4 separate regions of the Homo sapiens genome follow, and regions 1, 3 and 4 are each linked to region 2. The links come from fine-mapping of genetic effects on gene expression. A gene starts in region 2. Each other region holds a variant in brackets. All regions are shown on one strand. Distances are between the middles of the regions.

Region 1 (5,153 bases), 79 kb before region 2:
TAGTTGGTACTAACTAGAAAGAAGCAAGTCAGACAGACATTATCCATTCATCCCCTCCCAGGTCCAAGAGTTTGCTTACGATTATAAACAGCAAGAAGACTGTATTTCGTGATGCTCTCTTAGCTCAGGGCTACAGAGCAATGCTGTTGTATGTAGGAAAGAATGATTTCTTGAACTTGAATCCACAGTAGGTTCTGAGTTTTTTCCAACTCAACAATTGCTATGCTCAGTTAACTCAACAAATAGAATATGATGTACTAGCCTGATATCCATCCCTCTCCCTCCCTTCTAATATAACCTTGATTCTATTCAGGAATCACCCTCATATGCAGAGGTGGATCTTGACTGATCTAAGCCACTCAGGGTGTAGCATTCCCCTGGCTTTTATTGGTTAAGTGGGAGAAGACGGAACTTTGTCCTAAATAGGGCCAATCTGGTAGAGGGGAGTGCCATGTTTGGGAGAGATGATCTCTCTCTCCCACTGTACATGAACAAGGGCTCATTTTGTCCTAGGTTCTGCTGGCAAAACCTAAGATTTTGAAGGCAGCCAGTCTGAGGTCAATGCCAAAAAATCAAGGAGGACAGAGTGGAGGGATAGAATATGGTCTTGGTGACATCACTGAGCTTCTAACGCAACCAACCCAGATTTCTTACAATTTCAAGTAAATTTCCCTGCTGTTTAAGCCAATTTAAGTCAGGGCTTGTTACCTTCATCCAAAGGCATCCTAGTGAATACCTTGGTATTTACTGAGTACCTACTAAAAGGATAAGAAACTCTTTTTCTGGAAGGAGCTAATAATGAACAGGGGAGGAAACTTGACATTTAATGAAGAAGAAAGAAATGCTGACATGGAGACCAGGAGCTCTAGACCTAGCTATGTCACCCAGGGTGACCACCAATTAAATTGTCTAGATCTCAGTCTCTACAATCATGAAATGAGAAAGTGGAGTGTGGACTGTATGTTTGCTAAGATCTCCTCTGGCTAAATTACTGTGTTTTAATGTCAACTAGAGGAAATATGACGCCCCCACTTTTTTTTTTTGGTAAGCATCAGTGGTCCACAAAGAATTTAACAATTGGTACCAACAGAGAGGCAAAAAATACCTTTTTTTTTTTTTTTTAGACAAAGCCTCACTCTGTCGCCAAGGCTGGAGTGCAGTGGCATGATCTCGGCTCACTGCAATCTCTGCCTCCCGGGTACAAGCGATTCTCCTGTCTCAGCCTCCCAAGTAGCTGGGATTACAGGCATATGCCCCCATGCCCAGCTAATTTTTGTATTTTTAGTAGACACGGGTTTTCACCATGTTGGCCAGGCTGGTCTCGAACTCCTGACCTCAGGTGATCCACCCATCTCGGCCTCCCAAAGTGCTGGGATTACAGGTGTGAGCCACTGGGCCTGGCCAAGAAGGAATATAATTGCCTTTTAAGAAAATATTCTGCTTGCTTTCTTTTTTAGAGATGAGGTCTCACTGTGTCAGCCAGGCTGGGTTAAAAAACTCCTGGACTCAAGCAGTCCTTCTGCCTCAGCCTCCTGAGTAGCCAGCACTACTGCCTGGCTTCTACTTGCTTATTTTAATATTAATAACAAAATATAGTTAGCTCTGAGCTTTAAATACAATAGATATCAAAATTATTTAATAAAAAATATTCATGGTCCCAGCATGGTGGCTCATACCTGTAATCCCAGCACATTGGGAGGCTGAGGCAGGAGCATTGCTTGAGGCCAGGAGTTCAACACCAGTCTGGGCAACCTGGCAAAACCCCATCTCTTAAAAAAATTCAAAATAAGCCAGGCCTGGGGCTACATGCCTGTGGTCCCAGCTACTTGGGAGGCTGAGGCGGGAGGATCACTTGAGCCTGGGAAGTGGAGGTTGCAGTGAACTGTGATCGTGCAACTGCACTCCAGCCTGGGCAACAGAGCGATACCCCGTCTCAAAACAAAACAAAACAAAATATTCACCATTATGTGTCTAGTAAAGTGAAGAAAAGAAATAGGAAAGGAAACTGTCAATATAAAAGAAAAGGGAGGAGAACAGGCAGAGTTAGAGACATAAAGACACAAAATGGGATGGGACTTAGAGGAAAACCAGTGAGAGAAAACTCAGAAAGACACAGTTACTGGGACAGTAAAAAACAAAACAAAACAAAACCCCACAAAAAACTGAGAGAGACACCCAGGTTTACAAATATGGTGTCTTAAAAATAGATGGAAAATGCATGAAGAGCAAGGCATCTACTGAGAGATCTGGAAACAGACACACCTCGAGATACATCATACAAAGGCAGTCATGGGACAAGGAGAGAACACTTTCACAAAACCAGGAAGAGATAGACAGACAACAAGGGAAAAAAAGCACATGGGATTGAAG[C/T]AGATTTTGTGGGATGACCTTAAGCTGCACCTGTTGGCGTTGGCTGTGGTTATTAAAATAATATGACCTGCTGACATACAAGAACTTTCCAAAATTTTATGCTATAGCCAAGAGTGAGTTTTAAATGCCCTGCCTTGTGCTATCTCACATCAGAACATGCTTAGATGCCTCCCAGACTTGCAAGTTTTTAAAGTTTCAAAAAGAGAGTGATGGCGATGTGTTATGGGAAGGATACTGGTCAAGGAGGAAGGAAATCTCAGTTTTGGTTTCAGTCTAACAGGGGTCAGTTGTCAAGCCACTTCTCTTCCCTAAACTTGTTTCCTCATAGCAAAGTGAGGTAATTGGGCTAGATTATATCTAACTCTTTCCATCTTAAATATTCTCTAATTCTGAATGTTGCCTTCCAGTGGTAGTTTCTAGATATTGCAGAATGTAGTAGCCTTTGTCTTCTAAAAATCCTAATGAAGGCAGCTTTTGGGAGCCAAAAGGATTTTCTAGCAGAGCTAGCAAATTATACTTCTAAGAGTTAAAAGTTAATTATAAAAACTAAATTCATGCTTCTGCTCATGTGCAAAATCTTCAGAATCTACCAGAACAATACAAGGTAACACCAAAAAGAAAACTTAGTTTTTGAAAAAGTTTTTGAAAAAGAAGTGGAAATACTGTTTTGTGTTGTTCTGTTTTTAATCCGTGCCATCCCACTGGAGAAGAGAGAAAGGTTGGCAACATCATTGGGAGTATGAGCAGAGCTCAGAACCATCCCTAGAGACTCAGTCCTTGTCCCTTTCACCAATATTTTGTTATTGTGGCTTTAAGCACTTTTTGGTTTGAAAATACACGCGTGATCTATATATGTTCTTGTTGCAAATAAGTGAAACAATTCGGACGTAAATAAAATAAAAGTAACAGTGAGATTTAATGACTCCCTCCCCCAATTTCACTCCCTTCCTCAGAGGTAACCCCTTAGAAGCTTGTAGTATATCTTTCCAGAACTTTCCCCATACACTTATATTCATATAAGCACACATCCACCTTTATGTATTTATATTTTGCTCATTTCTGTAGTTATTGTTAGCATATTACATAATGCATATTCTTCTGCAACTTCCTTTTTTATAATGATTCCACATATACATAAACACCATGTTGTTTCACCATGTTGGCCAGCTGGTCTCGAACAACTGCAAACTCCACTCAACATCTTTCACATTTCACATTAAATGGGAGGAGAAATGCTTAAAAAATGTATTTGAGGGTGTGTGGAAAGGAAGAAATGGTATTACTTTGACTTTCTTTTTTTTTTAAAAGATTTGGGTCATTTTGGCCACCAAAACAGGAACTTTATCCTGTATGGGCAGTTGCCTACTGCACAGCCATTTCTTCCCTTCTTCTTTGCTAACGGAACTTGATTTCGTTTAGCAATGTTGTGGTCATGAGCTGTAGAGAAGCCTAGACCTTTTCCAGCCTCAGTGTGTGAACTTTCGGTTAGTCTAAACCAGTGGTTCTCAAATTTGAGCTACATCAGAGCCATTTGGAGGGCTTGTTAAAAACACAACTTGGTGAGCTCTACTCTACCCTCCGAGTTTCTGATTCTGGTGGGGCTTGAGAATGTGCATTTCTAATAAGTTTCCAGGTAATGCTGATCTTGGTACAAGGACCACACTTTGAGAACTGCTGCTCTAAGCCAATTATGGTGTTCTATTGTCTTGCCATGCTTAGGACTAAGCATATGATACAGTTCTGGACAATTAATCCTCAGGGATAATCTGCTAGAGGGATTCTGGGACTCAGGAAGTAACGAGTTCTTTCTCAGTCTTTGGACATGGTGATGCTTAAAGATGTGATGCTGGGAGCTACTACGGCAGCCAACTTGCTTCCAGAGAAGACTGGCTGACATGCTGAGAGTAGCAAAGCAAAGAGAGGGAAGAATCTGGGTTACTGATGACATTATTGTAGATTAAACAGCTCTGGAGCTGCCCTAACTTCAAGAAACTTAATATGTGAGATAGTAAAACATTTATTATTATTTAAGCCATTTGAGCAGAATTTTCTGTACTTGCTTCAGAAAGCCACCTAACTGATTCATTCATACCCTTCTCTCTCAGTGCTCAGAGAGACTCCAGCTGATGTAGCAGCAGAGCAATTTACTTTAAGCATGATTTTGGATATTTTAGGTTGTTTCTAATTTTCATTATCATTCAGTAGCTCTGCAAAGAGTAACAATGCTTTTGTATATTTTGGGATATTTCCAAAGGTCATTTTCCCAGAAGCAAAATTACAATGTCATAAGTATATGAATTTCCAAGGTTTTGATAGTTTTTCCAAATCTCTTTCCAAAACAATTGTTTTAATTTCTACCCTATTCAGAAATATATGCAAGTTCATTTAATCACGTCCTTTTTTCTTAATTGTGGGCAATTTCATAGCTGAGAAATGGGGTCTCATAATTTTTATTTGCATTTATTTGATTACTAGTGTGGAGTCAACATTTACCATGTGTCTGTCAACCAGTTGCATTTCCTCTTTCATGTTGCTATTAGATGGAAAGCACTTAGCACCATGTCTGGCCCTCTTGGATATTTATTTTTTGTTTAACTAAATGTTTTTGGGTTTCTCTATTGATATCCCTGCCTTTGCCTATTTATCAAAACTCTATGTTCTTCTCATTAATTTCTTATGTAATAAAAATACCCCTTTGCAGGGAGACATGAATTTTTACACATTTTTTTTTCCAGTTTGCAGTTAGTAGTTTGTTTTTGGTTGGTTTTAGTTTTGTATCATTC
Region 2 (5,153 bases):
TGCCACAAATACTTACACAGCACGTGCTATGTGCTGTCACTGCTGTAGGTGATACATCAGCAAAAAAGAAAAAATTCCTGCCTCAATGGAGCTTACATTCTAATGGGGGAACCTACCACAAACAAACAAATACAATTCCGGGTGGTGACAAGTACATTGAAGAGAAATAAAGCAAAATATGGAGCCAGCAAATGACAGTGAGGAGATACTATTTTAGATAGCACGGTTAGCGACCATCTCTCTGAGGAAGTAATATTTGAGTGAAGTGAGGAAGTGAAACTTACAAAAATCTGGGAGGAGAATAAGAATCTTTCAGGCAGAAAGAACAGCAAGTGAGGCCCTGGAGCAAGACTAAGCATGGAATGTTCCAGCAACTGTTCTAAACACAATGTGGCTAGATCAGAGTGAGTGAGGGGGAGAGTTGTAGGAAATGAGGCCAAGGGTCAGAGAAAGGCCCGATTTGTAGGGCCCTGTAGACCATGGGAAGGTGTTTGGAACTTATTCTGAGGGTACCTATGGGGAATTTTGAGAGAAAGTAACACAATATGGTTAACATTTTAAAAGTATCTCTCTAGCGACTCAGTGAATAAATTACTGTACAAAAAGATCAATGTAGCAGGTAGAGTCATCAGGACTTGCTGATGAATTAGATTTGAGTTTTGGAATGAGTGTGCATGTAACTCATGAACATAATTCTGCAGTCTTGCTCTCAGGTGTGTATCCCATAAAGGCGCTTCAGGGCTCTGTAGGGAAGCATCATGTCCTTACCAGTACTAACTTACATGAAACTTCCTATGTGCCAACCCCTGTTCTAAGCCCTTTACATATGTTAATTCATCCAGCCCTCACAATATGTACCAAGAAGTCCATTGTGGAATTGTCTGTGGTAGCTGAGGGTGGGCAGCAACTAGGATGTTAGGGGAATGGACAAGTGCAGTGTAGCAGAAGCATAGAATATTAGGGCAGTCATGGCTGGGCGCAGTGGCTCATGCCTGTAATCCCAGCACTTTGGGAGGCTGAGGTGGGTGGATCACCTGAGGTCAGGAGTCCAAGACCAGCCTGGCCAACATGGTGAAACCCCATCTCTGCTAAAAACACAAAATTAGCCAGGCGTGGTGATGCACGCCTGTAATCCCAGCTACTCAGGAGGCTGAGGCAGGAGAACTGCTTGAACCCAGGAGGTGGAGGTTGCAGTGAGCTGATATCATGCCATTGCATGCCAGACTGGGTAATAAGAGCAAAACTGCGTCTCAAAAAAAAAGAATATTAGGGCAGTCAAAAGCAATAAACATGATGCATGTAGAGCAATCTGAACAAATTTGAAACATCTGGGATTAATTTTTAAAAGTAGAAGTGAATATAATATCTAGAACACAATGCCACTTATGTAAATTAACAACACTAAATATTTCTCAAAGCTAAAAACTGCATGTTATACCTAATGTAAATGACGAGTTAATGGGTGCAGCACACCAACATGGCACATGTATACATATGTAACAAACCTGCACGTTGTGCACATGTACCCTAGAACTTAAAGCACAAAAAAAAATAGCATGTATATGGGAACACACAGTAAACATTTTACAGTGGGTGCTTATGTGGAGGGGAGGAGGACAATAATGTGGGTGAAAGTCAACAAGGTAAGACAATAAGAGGGGGAACTTGCAAAGACCAATAATGACAGCCGGCCATGAGCAGCATCTTGAATCCCTGACAATCAGAGAGATAAGAGAACAGATTTTGGAGACAGACTTCTATTCAAATCCCAGTTTCATCATCTCAGTTTCCTCATATGCAAAATTGGGATATTAATAATTCTTCCTCAAAGGGCCTTACAAGAATTAAGTGCAGTAATATCTGTGAAGCACTTAGCATAGTGCCTGCCACATGCCGAGACACTAAAGTGAGCTGTCATCAGCAACAACAGCATTAGTTCATTACTGTAATTATCACTGAGAACACTTTATCACCAGAATGCTTATCAAATGGTGACATATATTGTCCAGATGTTATGTTGTGATAGGCCTCAAATAATTGCTCAAGTTACAAATGATAATTTCTAAATTTTTCTGCATTGTAAAGGAGTGAAGAATTAGAAATTCTGGGGAAAAGTCCTAGATGGAGTAAAAAGACTCACTTTGGGAAAAACTTAGAGGAGAGCCTAGAATAAATAAATATTTCGTGGGAAATTTTTCAAGTCAAATTCTGAGCACTGTATAATATGAACAGTATGGATGGTTCCAGAGGTTTCTAGGGACGACTATACAGTTCACAAAGTTTTGGTGTACTAAGGTTTCTTCTGAATCGAGTAAAGGGGCTGAGATCTGTGCTCTGGGGGATGAGAAGCCAAAATAGAGCCAGCTTGTGTTGCCTAAGAGGACAGCTGACAACTGCATTGCATTCTTACCATTGAGGTGGTGGCTTGGTGCAGAAGTCAGACCTCTGTGGCAGGCTGTGGATCATGTGGGAAGCCACACACTGGCCCTGAGACGAGGAATTATTAGGATGGAGGGGAAGCACAAGAGTGCTGGTCAGCCCAGGCACTCCTAAAGCAGGCAGGTGATCATCCCTGTTCCCAGTAATTAGTTCTTCTCTGCCTCCCCTACTCTTGGGCACATTGTCAAATATGTCCCTACTTTGTTTGAAATCTACAGGACTCTATCTCTTTTATCAAAACCTGCACTCAAAACATGATCTGAAGTGACCAGCATAATTTAAATGACCAGTCACATTTTCCTAAGAGGCATTTGCATTTTTAAAAGGGGCTAGTCCATTAAGCAAAATATGAGGGGACTCTCAGAGTGGAACTTCAGGCATCAGCAAGAGGGGAAGATACTATCTTCCTGGGAGTTGACAGTACCTGATAATTGATCTCCTTCCCATCAGATTTCCAAGGGATCAAGGTGCCCCGGTTCTAAACAACCACAGGTAAGGACAGGATAGAGTCCAAGGAGACACACTATCAGGCTGGAAAATTCATTAAGTATTTACATGAAAATTCAGGTTCTCCTCATTGCTCAGGTACGGTCACATGGCTCAGAAAGCACAAGAAGTAGAGCCCCGAGGTCAGATCTGAGAGGCTTCTGAGGGGCCGATGCAGTGACTTCTCTGCTGCAGGTCAGGAGTTCTGGAACTGGGGCGTGGCTGGGGAGGGGTTGCAGGGAAGGGTGGGAGGAAGGAAGAAAAGAACAAGTGATTGGAAGTGCCACAGGATGAGCTCATTGGGATGGGTAGGAAAGAAGAGTTTTCTAACTTCTTAAGAATTTAAGAATTTATGAGAACTCAAGATTTCAGGAAGGGAGGAAGAAGAAACACATTGCATTTCTATCCTTGACTGGGGAACTAGATGATAGGGATGTGAAGGGTGGTTGGTGAGTCATGCCTTTTCGTCTACTCATTGTGGCAGGATGTGAGCTCTGGGGGCAGGCAACCGAACACTGACCTCTCTAGGTCTCATGCCAATGTCTGTCATCAGGAGTGAGCAGGAAAAAGGTCCTTAAGGACATGAGGCCGTGTCTTCCTCAGCTGAGCCTTGCAGGGCTGGCTGGAAGGTGGAGAAGGGATGGGATGGGAGTGGGATGTCAATGGGAGCCTGAAGATGGCGGGGTCATCTGCTGGAGCCTGGGGTTCTATGGGGCTCTCTTGTGCTGTGGAGGGCACAAGTTCTGCAGGCCTTCCTTTCAGTAGTCAGGGCTGGCCTGAGCTGTGAGGTGGCTGTAGATGCGGTAGATGAGACAGTGCCTGGCACTTGGGATACCTGATATTCAGCCTGTCTCCCACTGGTTCTGGTCTGCTATCTTCAGGAACTAGGAGTGGGTGGGAGAAGCAGCAATGTCTCCTAGTACTCAGTGGCATCCACTGGCCACATTCTTTCTCTCTGTTCCCCATCTCATGCCAGTGCATCTCCATCCTTCTGCAGCTGCTGCAGTCAGATCCATCATGTGGCCACTGACAGCCCTTCTGCTCCTGGGTGAGTCCACAGTGAGGCAGCAGAAGAGCTTTGGGTGGTGGAGAATAGGGTGGACCAAGGTATGGGGAGAGGAGGGTGGGTATCCAATCCTCAGTTTCCAAGTGGTTCATTATCTTTTTTTGGAGGGGTGAAGAAGAAGGGGCTTTCTCAGAGCTTGGGAAACCAGGGGCAGAAGAAGAAAAACAGGTTTTGGGACCATTCAGCCTTTCTTGTCGTCAAGAGTCTCTCTCCTCTCATCGCCAATATTCTCCTTCTCCTTCCTCTTCCTTCTTTCCTGTTCTGCAGTTCCAAGCAGTGGGCAAGCTGGTGAGTCTTATAAATTTCTCATCCCAATTTTCTACAGCTTCCACTCCAACCCCCTAAGTGACCTTTTCAAGTAGACTCCTCACTTCTTGGCTGCGCTGGGATAGTGTCTCTTCCCACTCTCGTCAACCCCTGGGACTAAATTTGCTTGAAGGCATTTAGAAATGGGTGCTGGCTGATGGACTGGTAGTCTGTAACCCAATGAATGTGATCTCCTCTCCTGCAGGGATGGGTTAGTACATGGGCTGGGGCCTGCGAGCTGGGGTTTCCTAAGATTTCCCAAACTCAGGTCGTTTCTTTGGGCACCTCACCTTGATTCTCTTTGCATGCTGCCCCCTCTCACCCCACTCCCCACCCCAGCTACTCTGGAGAAGCCCATATTGTCTCTACATCCACCTTGGACCACCATCTTCAAAGGGGAGCGGGTAACTTTGAAGTGTGATGGATACCACCCACTGCTCCTGGAGCTCCAGCCCATCAGCACTCTCTGGTATTTGGGCCACCTACTTCTGCCCTCTCACAAGAAGAGCATTGAGGTGCAGACACCAGGGGTGTATCGATGCCAGACACGGGGAGCACCCGTCAGTGACCCCATCCACCTCTCTGTATCCAATGGTGAGTGGACTGAGCACGAGGGGAGGGGGAGCACGTGTCTCCTCTGGCAATACTAGTCCTCTGGTGGGAGGGAACACTGGGCCAATCCCAAGGTGCAGGAAACAAGGGCCACACTGGGGCCTATCTTAAGTCTCTGGAGCAGGTAGGGACCTGCACGGCACTATGCGAGAGATGCAGTAAGGCATGCCTAGCCCCCAAGGTCCCCTTACCCTCCTGCCATAGTGTGAGGCACAGTGTGAACATTTCTGTTTGTTTCTGAGAC
Region 3 (5,151 bases), 180 kb before region 2:
TCAGGAGGCTGAGACAGGAGAATTGCTTGAATGTGGGAGGTGGAGGTTGCAGTGAGCCAAGATTGCGCCACTGCACTCCAGCCTGGGCGACAGAGCAAGACTCCATCTCAAAAAAAAAAATTAATAAAAAAAATAAATGACTCTAGTTTAAAGATCATTTGGCAAATTTATTTATTTATTTACTTATTTATTATACATATGATACTGTGTACATATAAACATATATGCATATATAATTTCTGCATATACATATCTATGTTTGCATGTCTTCTCATTTCACTGAACATCATTGAAAACTTCCACCTGCTCCTAAACTGGAGCCCACTGATGACAGAGGATGGCAGGGCAGAAAGAAAGGAGATTCTGTGTGGAGGCTATGGAGAGACCCTGGTTTTTGGGCAATATAGAAAATGGCTTTCGTCCAAGTGTTCTTATTGTTCAATTCCCACCTATGAGTGAGAACATGCGGTGTCTGATTTTCTGTCCTTGTGATAGTTTGTTCAGACTGATGGTTTCCAGCTTCATCTATGTCCCTACAAAGGACATGAACTCATCCTTTTTTATGGCTGCATAGTATTCCATAGTGTATATGTGCCACATTTTCTTAATCCAGTCTATCATTGATGGACATTTGGGTTGGTTCCAAGTCTTTGCTATTGTGAATAGTTCCACAATAAACATACGTGTGCATGGTAGGGAACATCACACACCGGGACCTGTCGTGGGTGGGGGAAGGAGGGAGGGATAACATTAGGAGAAACACCTAATGTAGATGACGAGTTAATGGGTGCAGCACACCAACATGGCACATGTATATGTAACGAACCTGCACCTTGTGCACATGTAGCCTAGAACTTAAAGTATATATATATATGAATAAAGTATATATACATATGAATTAAAGAAAAAAAAAAAGCCTTTTTAGACCCAGCACTGACGAGGTTCCCTAGGTCGATGGTGGTGGAATTAGGGGTCTCTGTCCTCAGATATTTGGATCTGGATATGTCAGCATGAAAGTCCTTAAGTTGCACGCATTTTTTAAAAAATATTTTTTATTTCCAAGCTGAATACCATTAATTGGAATGTTACAGGCTTTTTAAGCTCCGTGTTCTGTCTGCATGTCTAATATGCCGGTAGAAACCTTTCAAAACAGCGTGGGTTGAAGACTAATTTTGTAACACAAAACTCACTTACTTAGACATCACATTTTGCTGGACGTGATTGGACCTGAAAGAAAATATTTTTAATGCTCACGATAATAAGCTTATTATGAGTCAGCACTAAACGTGTGCACATGCATACATAAGTTGTCTACATCAGCAAAAAAAGCTTATCGTCGTACTTCTCTGACCAAAATCAACGGAACCCCCGAACCCACAGAGAGCATCCATTTTGGATTCCCCGAAGACCCTTCGTTCCTGCATTCTCTTCTGCTCTCCTTTTCTCAACCTCTTCTGCTGGAAGCTGAGTCCTGCTCCAGATCTAGGCAAGTGCTAGCGCAGAAAAAAGACCTGCCTCGCTCAGGGCTATGAGCCGCGCCCTGAAGCACGGAAAGCTAATTGTGTCACTGGTTTCAAATCAACCTCAATTTTTTTGGAGACGTGAGTGCTGAGCATTTTTTCTTCAGTGAAGTGACTTGGCAGCCAAAATCGCCAACGCCCGTCTCTGTGGCGCAATCGGTTAGCGCGTTCGGCTGTTAACCGAAAGGTTGGTGGTTCGATCCCACCCAGGGACGGAAGTCGCATTTTGTGAACCCTGGGTTTTTGAAACTTTGACTGAAAAAACTGCGTGCGATGCTATCCGCTGGGAGCGCTGGGGCCTTGGCGCTCAAAACCAGCCGCGGTGCTAACCGCAGGGAGCTCTGGTAGCAGACCTCCGCGTTGTGTGGTTCCCAATGTCCTCTTCTGCCTTAGTGCTGTACGGGTAATTTTGAGGTATTTGGTTTTTCCGACTAGGGTTGTAGTGATAACTCTTAGCTGCTTAACCACGGCAATTACGTTATGGAAACTGACACTTTAAGAAAATTTACTGACCAAAGGAAGTAAGTACTAATAATACCAAAACGAATTGTTTGTCTTTCCACCAAACCTGTACCTGCCTTGCCTTTCTATTTCCTAACTCAGAAAACGGGCACTATGTGTGGAAC[C/G]TGGTCCTTAGTCACGCCGTGTACTGCTGGCTGCCAATTCTTGGAGAGTCGGCCTCCTAAATACCTTGTTGATTAAGCACCTTCCTCTCCAGCCTCACCGCCAGTTACTTCCTCATTGCTCCCTTTGGGTTACTGCATCCTGCCTTGCTGCCCTATTTGGCTTCTGGTCTTCAACTCTCCTGTCCCGTCCATCCATCAAGTAGTTGCGAGAGAATCCTTCTAAAATACTATACGGTACAAACCTGGTCTGCTTAAACTCTCTCAATGTATTGCAGGGTCTGATACGATCTCCTTAGTTTGGAAGGTAATGCCCTTCATGATCTGGCCCTGAAACTCTTTCCTCTCCCTCACCGACACAGAACCAAACTGCTTTCTTGAACTCACACTCTGGTTTTTGAATCTTTGCCTATGAACCTTGGGCTTTTCTTCTCTTCTTTGCCTGGCGAACTCCTACTCATCCTTCATGACCACACCCCCCAAATCAAGCCTCTTTTCTGCAGCCCTTTCTTCATTCTCTTCCTATTTAACTGTTTTTCTCACTAGAAATAAAGCTTCTCCAGGGAATGACCCTGTGTTGTTCATCTGGTATCTTCAGCACCTGAACTCAAGCTTGCACATTGTAGGTAGTAAATAAATGTGAGTTGAATGTCCAAGGTTTCCAAATGCACCTGTGTCGTGTCGGAATCTTATGTAATATTTATGTATGCAATCTAGCTTGAATCGTCTTGGTATATAGCTCATAATTCATACAATCAGGCTGACCCTCTACCTCTGCCCAGGCCTCTACCTCCTGTGTAGCTGTGCCTTCTCCTATCTGCCCCAATGCTCTAAAACGATCTCTAATGCTTATTCACCCTCCTATCCCATACTTCCCATAAGAATCCTCCTTAGCCCAATTGTCTCAGCAAGATTTGGAAAGCAAGCTGGCTAATTTATATGAGTTGTGGTGAGATGGTTGCTGGGAGGAGGGGGTGTTTCTTACCAATCCAAACCAATCTCTGTTACAATGTTGGACAAAGGGAAGAAGAAAGAATTTTATCATTCATATTTTATTACCATGGTTTTCCCATCTTCTATCTAAGAGTAGCATGCAAGATCTTGTAAAATGCTTTATTGGAACCAAGAAATGTTGCGCTTAAAGCTTACAAAACAGAGACAGCTAAAGCTTTCTTTCATAAGCAACAATTGTCTTCTCCATCCCCACCTCATTGGAACTGACATGATGAAGGATTTGAAAGTTTCATAACTTAACTCAGCGAAGCTCAGTAGTACATTTAGTATTGGTTATACAACATTTGTTTAATAAATGCAATGAACAAAGCTACACAGGAATTAGATATTGAAGCAGAAAAGGTGGTTTTACAGTCCCTGCATTAACCTCTAATTCTTACTACCCTGGCCAAGAAAGCATTTTCACCTCCTGCGCTTTCCTTCCTGTGTGCTTGTGGTTGGTTCTTTCTTCTCAGGCTTTCTCATTCTGATGCTGAGATAGTTCTGTTCACTTAGCAACTTGGGACAGTGACACAGGGTTTGTTCTGTACTTTCTTTTCCACCCCACCCCCCACCGCAATCCTCAGTCCCCTTCCTAGGACCATTTTCTACTCCTAGCATTAAGAGGACTCATCGTTATATACTTGGAGATGGTCCAGTTCTGATAGAGTCCCCTGGAAGACTCAATTCTACGTCACCCTCATGATTTCCTGTTAATTCCACTACGGCTAATGTTCTAGGAAGACACCCTTATCTCTGGGCTCAGATGGGAACACCTCCCTTAGACTATCCTGGACTACCTGCTATTTCTCAGCCATGCTTTCATTGGTCCCACTGAATTCCCTAGATCCCCAGCAGTTCCCACACTCTGTATGGTCCTGCCTCAACCATTAATTCTACTTATCCATTTATTTAGGAATAATTGTTTTTTTTTCCCCTCTAAACTGGGTAATTTATAACACGAGCAATTTTTGTATGTTTAAAGGATTACCATCCCTAGCCTGTATTGTTGCTTTGCTGTGAGGGAACGGTTGGGACAGAAAAAGTGTTTGTGTAGCTCTGAAACTTCAATTTCTAGGAATGCAGCTACTCACTGGGGCTTCCCTGCTTGAAGATCATGGGCTTTTCCCTTCCACTGGAGACCAAGGAAAAGTCGAGAGTTGGATAAGGGATCTGGCTCTGAGTTCTATGTTTCCTGCTGCTTGTAGAGAGGCCTGAGGATGATGGGGTTGCAAATCCAGAGAAATGTTCAGAGATGCTGCTGCTACTGCTCTTATTACCCCCATGGGATGGGGGTCATTTGTCTTGAGGGTCCTTTCTCCATTTAAATTTATGGTCCTTCCAGTCTCTTGTTGAGCTTCGAATGTTTGTCTTCACAGAGAAATATAGTCCTGTGTCCACTGCAAAAAGGAGTACCATCACCAAGCAGAAAGAGACTTGGTACCCAGGTGGAAAGAATGATGAGATGGTTGACACTGCCAAACCTATTAGGAGAAGTGGAGAGATGAAAAAAAATGACAGTCACTAAGGCAGATATTTGGAACAAACAGTGAGGTCACCAGTAGAAAGTCTTTGACAACAGCCAACAGGCAAGTGGTAGGAATGGTGGGGAAGTCTGGGGGAAAGTATTGCTTCCTCCCATTGGTTCCTGATCTTAGTGCTATCTGAGCAGAGGACAGCTCACCAAACACTGAGCAAAGGCTCCTGCTTGTTTGACAGAGATGTGACAGGGAGCGTTAACAAGTTAGGTTGTAAGCTGGGTTTTGTGTGACAGTTAAGAAATTGTCAGACAATGCTATGGTCTAGAAACTGGGACAAATTTGTTGATTTTGCATTTCAATTTTTTAAACTCTTGATTTTGATATATTTCCAAACTTAAAAAAAAAATGACCAGAATAGTTTAATCTCGTATATCCTTTACCCAGATCCACTCATTGTTTACATGTTACCCCATTTGCTTTATTTGCTCTCTTTCCCTAACCACTTGGGAGTATTTACTTTCAGTTTAAAGTGTC
Region 4 (5,141 bases), 42 kb before region 2:
TCTTTTTAATGCCATGGAGTACCATATTTTTCAAAGTTCCAACAAAGATGCACTACATTTAGACAATGTGGAAATGGCCCTCAGCCTTCTCTCCCTGAAGTCTGTGGCCAGCAAAAATCTGGACTTTACTTCACTCTGATGCTGAACACCCCCCTCCCCCACCTCTTCCCCAATATCTCAGATCCCAAGCCTCCCTGGTTTGCTTCTAGGAAAGCTCAGCAATTCCCTGAAAAGAATGCAGCTCAAGTGACTGCTCCACTTTTTCACCTTGGCCTTTGCGGAAGGCTGTGGCTGGGCTACCCTATGCATCGATCAATGAGGTCATATTTACCCAGTGCTTGGCCTAGAGGCCCAAGACAGGGTCAGCAGTGCTTGCTTTGGCTCTAGTTTGGGCGTTGGTTTTGCAGCCTCAGCATCAGCACAGGCAGGCCCTCTTCTCCAGCAGTGCTCTGGCTGATATTTCTTCTTTTTCCCACAGCCAATCCCACTAATCCTGATGAGGCTGACAAAGTTGGGGTGAGTGATCCCAGCCATCTCCCCCTCCCTTCTCCCCTGTTGCCTTTTCTGTTGCCTTCTTTCCTAGGCCCTCTCTGTGGATCCTTACTGCTGGTTTCTGCCTTCTCTAGGCTGAGAACACAATCACCTATTCACTTCTCATGCACCCGGATGCTCTGGAAGAGCCTGATGACCAGAACCGTATTTAGTCTCCATTGTCTTGCATTGGGATTTGAGAAGAAAATCAGAGAGGGAAGATCTGGTATTTCCTGGCCTAAATTCCCCTTGGGGAGGACAGGGAGATGCTGCAGTTCCAAAAGAGAAGGTTTCTTCCAGAGTCATCTACCTGAGTCCTGAAGCTCCCTGTCCTGAAAGCCACAGACAATATGGTCCCAAATAACCGACTGCACCTTCTGTGCTTCAGCTCTTCTTGACATCAAGGCTCTTCCGTTCCACATCCACACAGCCAATCCAATTAATCAAACCACTGTTATTAACAGATAATAGCAACTTGGGAAATGCTTATGTTACAGGTTACGTGAGAACAATCATGTAAATCTATATGATTTCAGAAATGTTAAAATAGACTAACCTCTACCAGCACATTAAAAGTGATTGTTTCTGGGTGATAAAATTATTGATGATTTTTATTTTCTTTATTTTTCTATAAAGATCATATATTACTTTTATAATAAAACATTATAAAAACAACATTCTGTTTACCTTTTCAAGGCTGTATTGGTTGGAGTGTAGACTGAACTGCCTGGGGTCTGTTTCTCTTCAGTGATGAGACTCTTAGGAAGGCAGGAATGGATAGGATAGGGGGAGGAGAGGAGAGATGGGGATTTAGAATGTAGAGTGAGTGCCCCTTTTCTTAAAACTGAATACAGTCACGCACCACATAATGATGTTTAGTTCAACAACAGACTGCATATATGATGGTGATCCCATAAAATTATAATACCATATTTCTATTGTACCTTTTCTATTCCTATGTTTAGATATATGAGTACTTACCATTGTGTTACAATTGCCTAAAGTATTCAGTACAGTAGCATGCTGTACAGGTTTGTAGCCTAGGGGCAATAGGCTATACGCTACAGCCTAGGTGTGTAGTAGGCCACACCATTTAGGTTTGTATAAGTACCTGCTATGATGTTCACACAACAAAATTGCCTGCATTTCTCAAAATGTATCCCCATATTTCAACAATGCATGACTGTACTCTTCTGCCAATGACCTTGTATTCTTGTTTCCATGTCTTCTTCTCTTTCCTCCTATGGCAAATAAAACACTGTTTTGCAACACAAGTTCACGGGAAGTCAAACTTCAGATGAGCCCTGAGTGGAGATTGCTGACATGTCCTGCTCTGCTATTCTCCCAATGTAGTTACCAGAAGGATGTGAC[C/T]TTCTCAGAGAAGTCATCTCAGGCAGATTAGAAACATGACTGGCAGTCTCCTTGAGGGTTTGGTGAGTGCCCTTGGAGAGGCTTCATTTTCCTGGGACTCTACGCAGTAACATCGTGCAACATTTGTTGCACTTTTTATGGTAGGATAAAAAGTACTCACTTTTTATGGTCCCACAATCAGATTTCATACACACTTATTGTTTTAGTAATAAGGGATAATAATTAAAATTACTGCGTTATTAAGGACTTACTTTGTGCCATATAGTTTGTGCCAAACTATATGCTTTAGAATTTAGAGAATTTACGATTAGCCTTTTATATTTCCTCTTTTGTGAGTTTCCTGTGTATTTATTCTTTGCCCATTTTTGTAGATACAATGTATGTCCCTTTATTTATAAATTGCATAGTAGTAACTTATTTCCTTTTATTTATATGTAAATTATTTCACTACACTAATAATGTATTCTTTTTATAAAATTAAGATACAGATAGGGAAAACAAAAAAATTAGATCGCCCATAAATCCATAAACCAGAAATAATTAATGCTAACATTTAAGGATATCAATCCATATTCCTGTCTGTGGCAGTGTGTATTTGTGTTTTAAAAATTGGATCTAATCCCAGCTACTCGAGAGGCTGAGACAGGAGAATCGCTTGAACCTGGGAAGCAGAGGTTGCAGCGAGCTGAGATCGCACCATTGCACTTCAGCCTGGGCAACAAGAGTGAAACTCTGTCTCAAAAAAAAAAAAAAATTGGATCATATCATATATTTTACATGTTAATAAATACACTCAGGCAAAAATGTATGCTCATTGTAAGCATGTAAGCCCAAATAATACAGAAAGATAAGGAGTAAAAAGTAGAAGTTCCATTTTGTCATCAGTTCCCTCTATCCTCTTCCCTTTTCTTTCTTTCTTTTTTTTTTTTTTTTAAGAGATAGGGTTGTAGTCCAGGCTGGAGTGCAGTGGCAGGATCACAGCTCATTGCAGCCTCAAACTCCTGGGCTCAAGTGGTCTTCCCACCTCAGCCTTCCTAGTAGCTGGGACTACCACACCTGGCTAATTTTTAAGAATTTTTTGGCCGGGCATGGTGGCTCACGCCTGTAATCCCAGCACTTTGGGAGGCCGAGGCGGGTGGATCATGATGTCAGGAGATCGAGACCATCCTGGCTAACACAGTGGAACCCCGTCTCTACTAAAAAAAATACAAAAAAAAAAAAATTAGCTGGGCTTGGTGGCGGGTGCCTGTATCCCAGCTACTCGGGAGGCTGAGGCAGGAGAAGGCGTGAACCCGGGAGGCAGAGCTTGTAGTGAGCCAAGATTGCACCACTGCACTCCAGCCTGGGCGACAGAGACTCCGTCTCAAAAAAAAAAAAAAAAAAAAGAACTTTTTGGCTGGGCGCGGTGGCTCATGCCTGTAATCCCAGCACTTTGGGAGGCAAAGGTGGGTGGATCACCTGAGGTCAGGAGTTCAAGACCAGCCTGGCTAAAACGGTGAAGCTCCATCTCTGCTGAAAATACAAAAATTAGCTGGGTGTGGTGGCTCATGACTGTTTAGTCCCAGCTACTTGGGAAGCTGAGGCACGAGAATTGCTTGAACCTGGGAGGCGAAGGTTGCAGTGAGCCGAGATCATGCCATTGCACTCCAGCCTGGGGAACAGAGAGAGACTCGGTCTCAAAAAAAAAAAAAATAGTTTGTAGAGACGGGGTTTTGCTATGTTGTCTAGGCTGATCTCAAACTGTGAGCCTCAGGCGATCCTCCCCACTTAGCCTCCCAAAGTGGTGGGATTACAGGTGTGAGCCACGGTGCCTGGCCCTGACATGCTACCTAAAGTCTGAAACTTGACTCCTGATCCCCAGGGTCAGTTTCTTTACTGATAGTTTTTCAATAAGCCATTTAGATAGTTGGCATGATTACGTAGCCAGAGGGGGCATAAAAATCCCTCTAGGAACTTCTGCTTTGAGCTCTCCCATAGCCAAGATTCCTTGTATGGATCCCGGTGGTTTAATCCAGACAAAAAGCGTAAATAAGTTACGGTAACTATAAGGATGCTAGGGAGCTTGCACATGGAATCTCTTGGACTCCCAGTAATTGCCTAGACTTTCTTTCTCTTGCTATACTTTTAAATAAGCACTTTGTTTGAGCATGCTCGGTAGAGTTTGATGAGTTCTTTCAAATATCCTCTTCAGGAAGGACATCCCTGACTGCACTTCCCCTACTGCTATTCCTCTGCTCTTATTTCCTTCATGGTATCTATCACTGTATGTAATCATGCATTTTTTTGCTTAAATATTTACTTACAAGTTCTAAAATGTAAGCTCACTCTGGGCAGGATGTTTGTATTATTCACTGGTGTATTCCAGAGACTAGAACAATGCAATCACTATTTATTGAATGAGTTAACGAATGAAATAATATTATATTTATCTAAAACTCTTAAATGCTTTAAATAGATCTTTACTATATTTGGAACTTATTTTTGGACTTGGTGTAAGGTGAGAACCTAATATAATTTTTCCATATGAAAGTCAGTTGTTCCAATATCATTTGTTGAACAGTTTAATAATTTGAAATCCTAATTTATCACCTAAATTCCCACTCATAGGTCTATTTTTAGCCTCTCTTCTATTACATTGTTCTATTTGTCTATTTCTGCATCAATACCACATTTTTAGTTATTGCAACTTTATAGTGTACTTTGATATATAGAAGGTCAAGTTTTCTCTCATTCTTTTGTTTCAAGGTTTTCTTGGCTACTAATGTGCTGCTTCTCTTCCAGATGTACTTAAGAATTCCATAACACTATTATGATATTGGTAGAATTGCATTGCATTTATAGATTATTTGGGTAAGGTTTGACATCTGTGTCATATTGAGGCTTCCTAAGTTACAACTCTTCATTCATTCAGACTTACAGAATTTTCCTATAATATCATATGAGCTTGGCACATTTTTTTGTGACAGATCTTTGACAGACTTTTCTTTCTGTCATTTTTGGTCTGGTTATGATTTTCTCTCTCTCGGGAGTCAATTTTGAAAACTTTTGCTTTCCTAGGAATCATCCATTTTATTGGTATGCAGTGGTACATCGCACTTTTCCCCTATTTTTTGGTAATAAGTTGTGTGTTTGTGTTTATGTCCCTCCTCTCATTCCTAGGTTTTGGGTTTTCTTTCTTTTATCAGTTAGGATGACTTCAGTTGGAAATAACAGGAAATCGTGATTCAAATTGGCTTAAA

Evidence for each region. PIP is the estimated chance that this variant, and not a neighbour inherited with it, causes the effect.
Region 1: its variant is fine-mapped to the expression of FCRLB in tibial artery (GTEx, PIP 0.94).
Region 3: its variant is fine-mapped to the expression of FCRLB in lung (TOPMed, PIP 0.94).
Region 4: its variant is fine-mapped to the expression of FCRLB in whole blood (TOPMed, PIP above 0.99).

The regions. Positions count from the first base shown.
Region 1 is chr1:161,640,180-161,645,332 of GRCh38, forward strand. No RefSeq gene overlaps it. Among named protein-coding and RNA genes, the nearest start is that of FCGR3B, 12 kb to the left of the region's middle. The variant C/T (reference allele first, on the strand shown) is at 2,371.
Region 2 is chr1:161,718,731-161,723,883 of GRCh38, forward strand. FCRLB (Fc receptor like B) reads left to right here and starts at 2,814. Exons shown (of 8, transcript NM_001002901.4): 1 at 2,814-2,931; 2 at 3,025-3,120; 3 at 3,923-3,973; 4 at 4,259-4,279; 5 at 4,637-4,891. The coding sequence starts at 3,943. RefSeq lists a silencer at 167-216 and enhancers at 3,596-3,695, 3,776-3,875.
Region 3 is chr1:161,538,580-161,543,730 of GRCh38, forward strand. It overlaps FCGR3A (Fc gamma receptor IIIa), which reads right to left. Exons shown (of 5, transcript NM_000569.8): 5 at 3,180-4,620. The coding sequence ends at 4,433. TRN-GTT1-1 (tRNA-Asn (anticodon GTT) 1-1) reads left to right here and starts at 1,662; the gene lies at 1,662-1,735. RefSeq lists a silencer at 1,638-1,867. The variant C/G (reference allele first, on the strand shown) is at 2,147.
Region 4 is chr1:161,676,850-161,681,990 of GRCh38, forward strand. FCGR2B (Fc gamma receptor IIb) reads left to right here. Exons shown (of 8, transcript NM_001394477.1): 7 at 479-516; 8 at 627-1,805. The coding sequence ends at 704. Among named protein-coding and RNA genes, the nearest start is that of FCGR2B, 16 kb to the left of the region's middle. The variant C/T (reference allele first, on the strand shown) is at 1,903.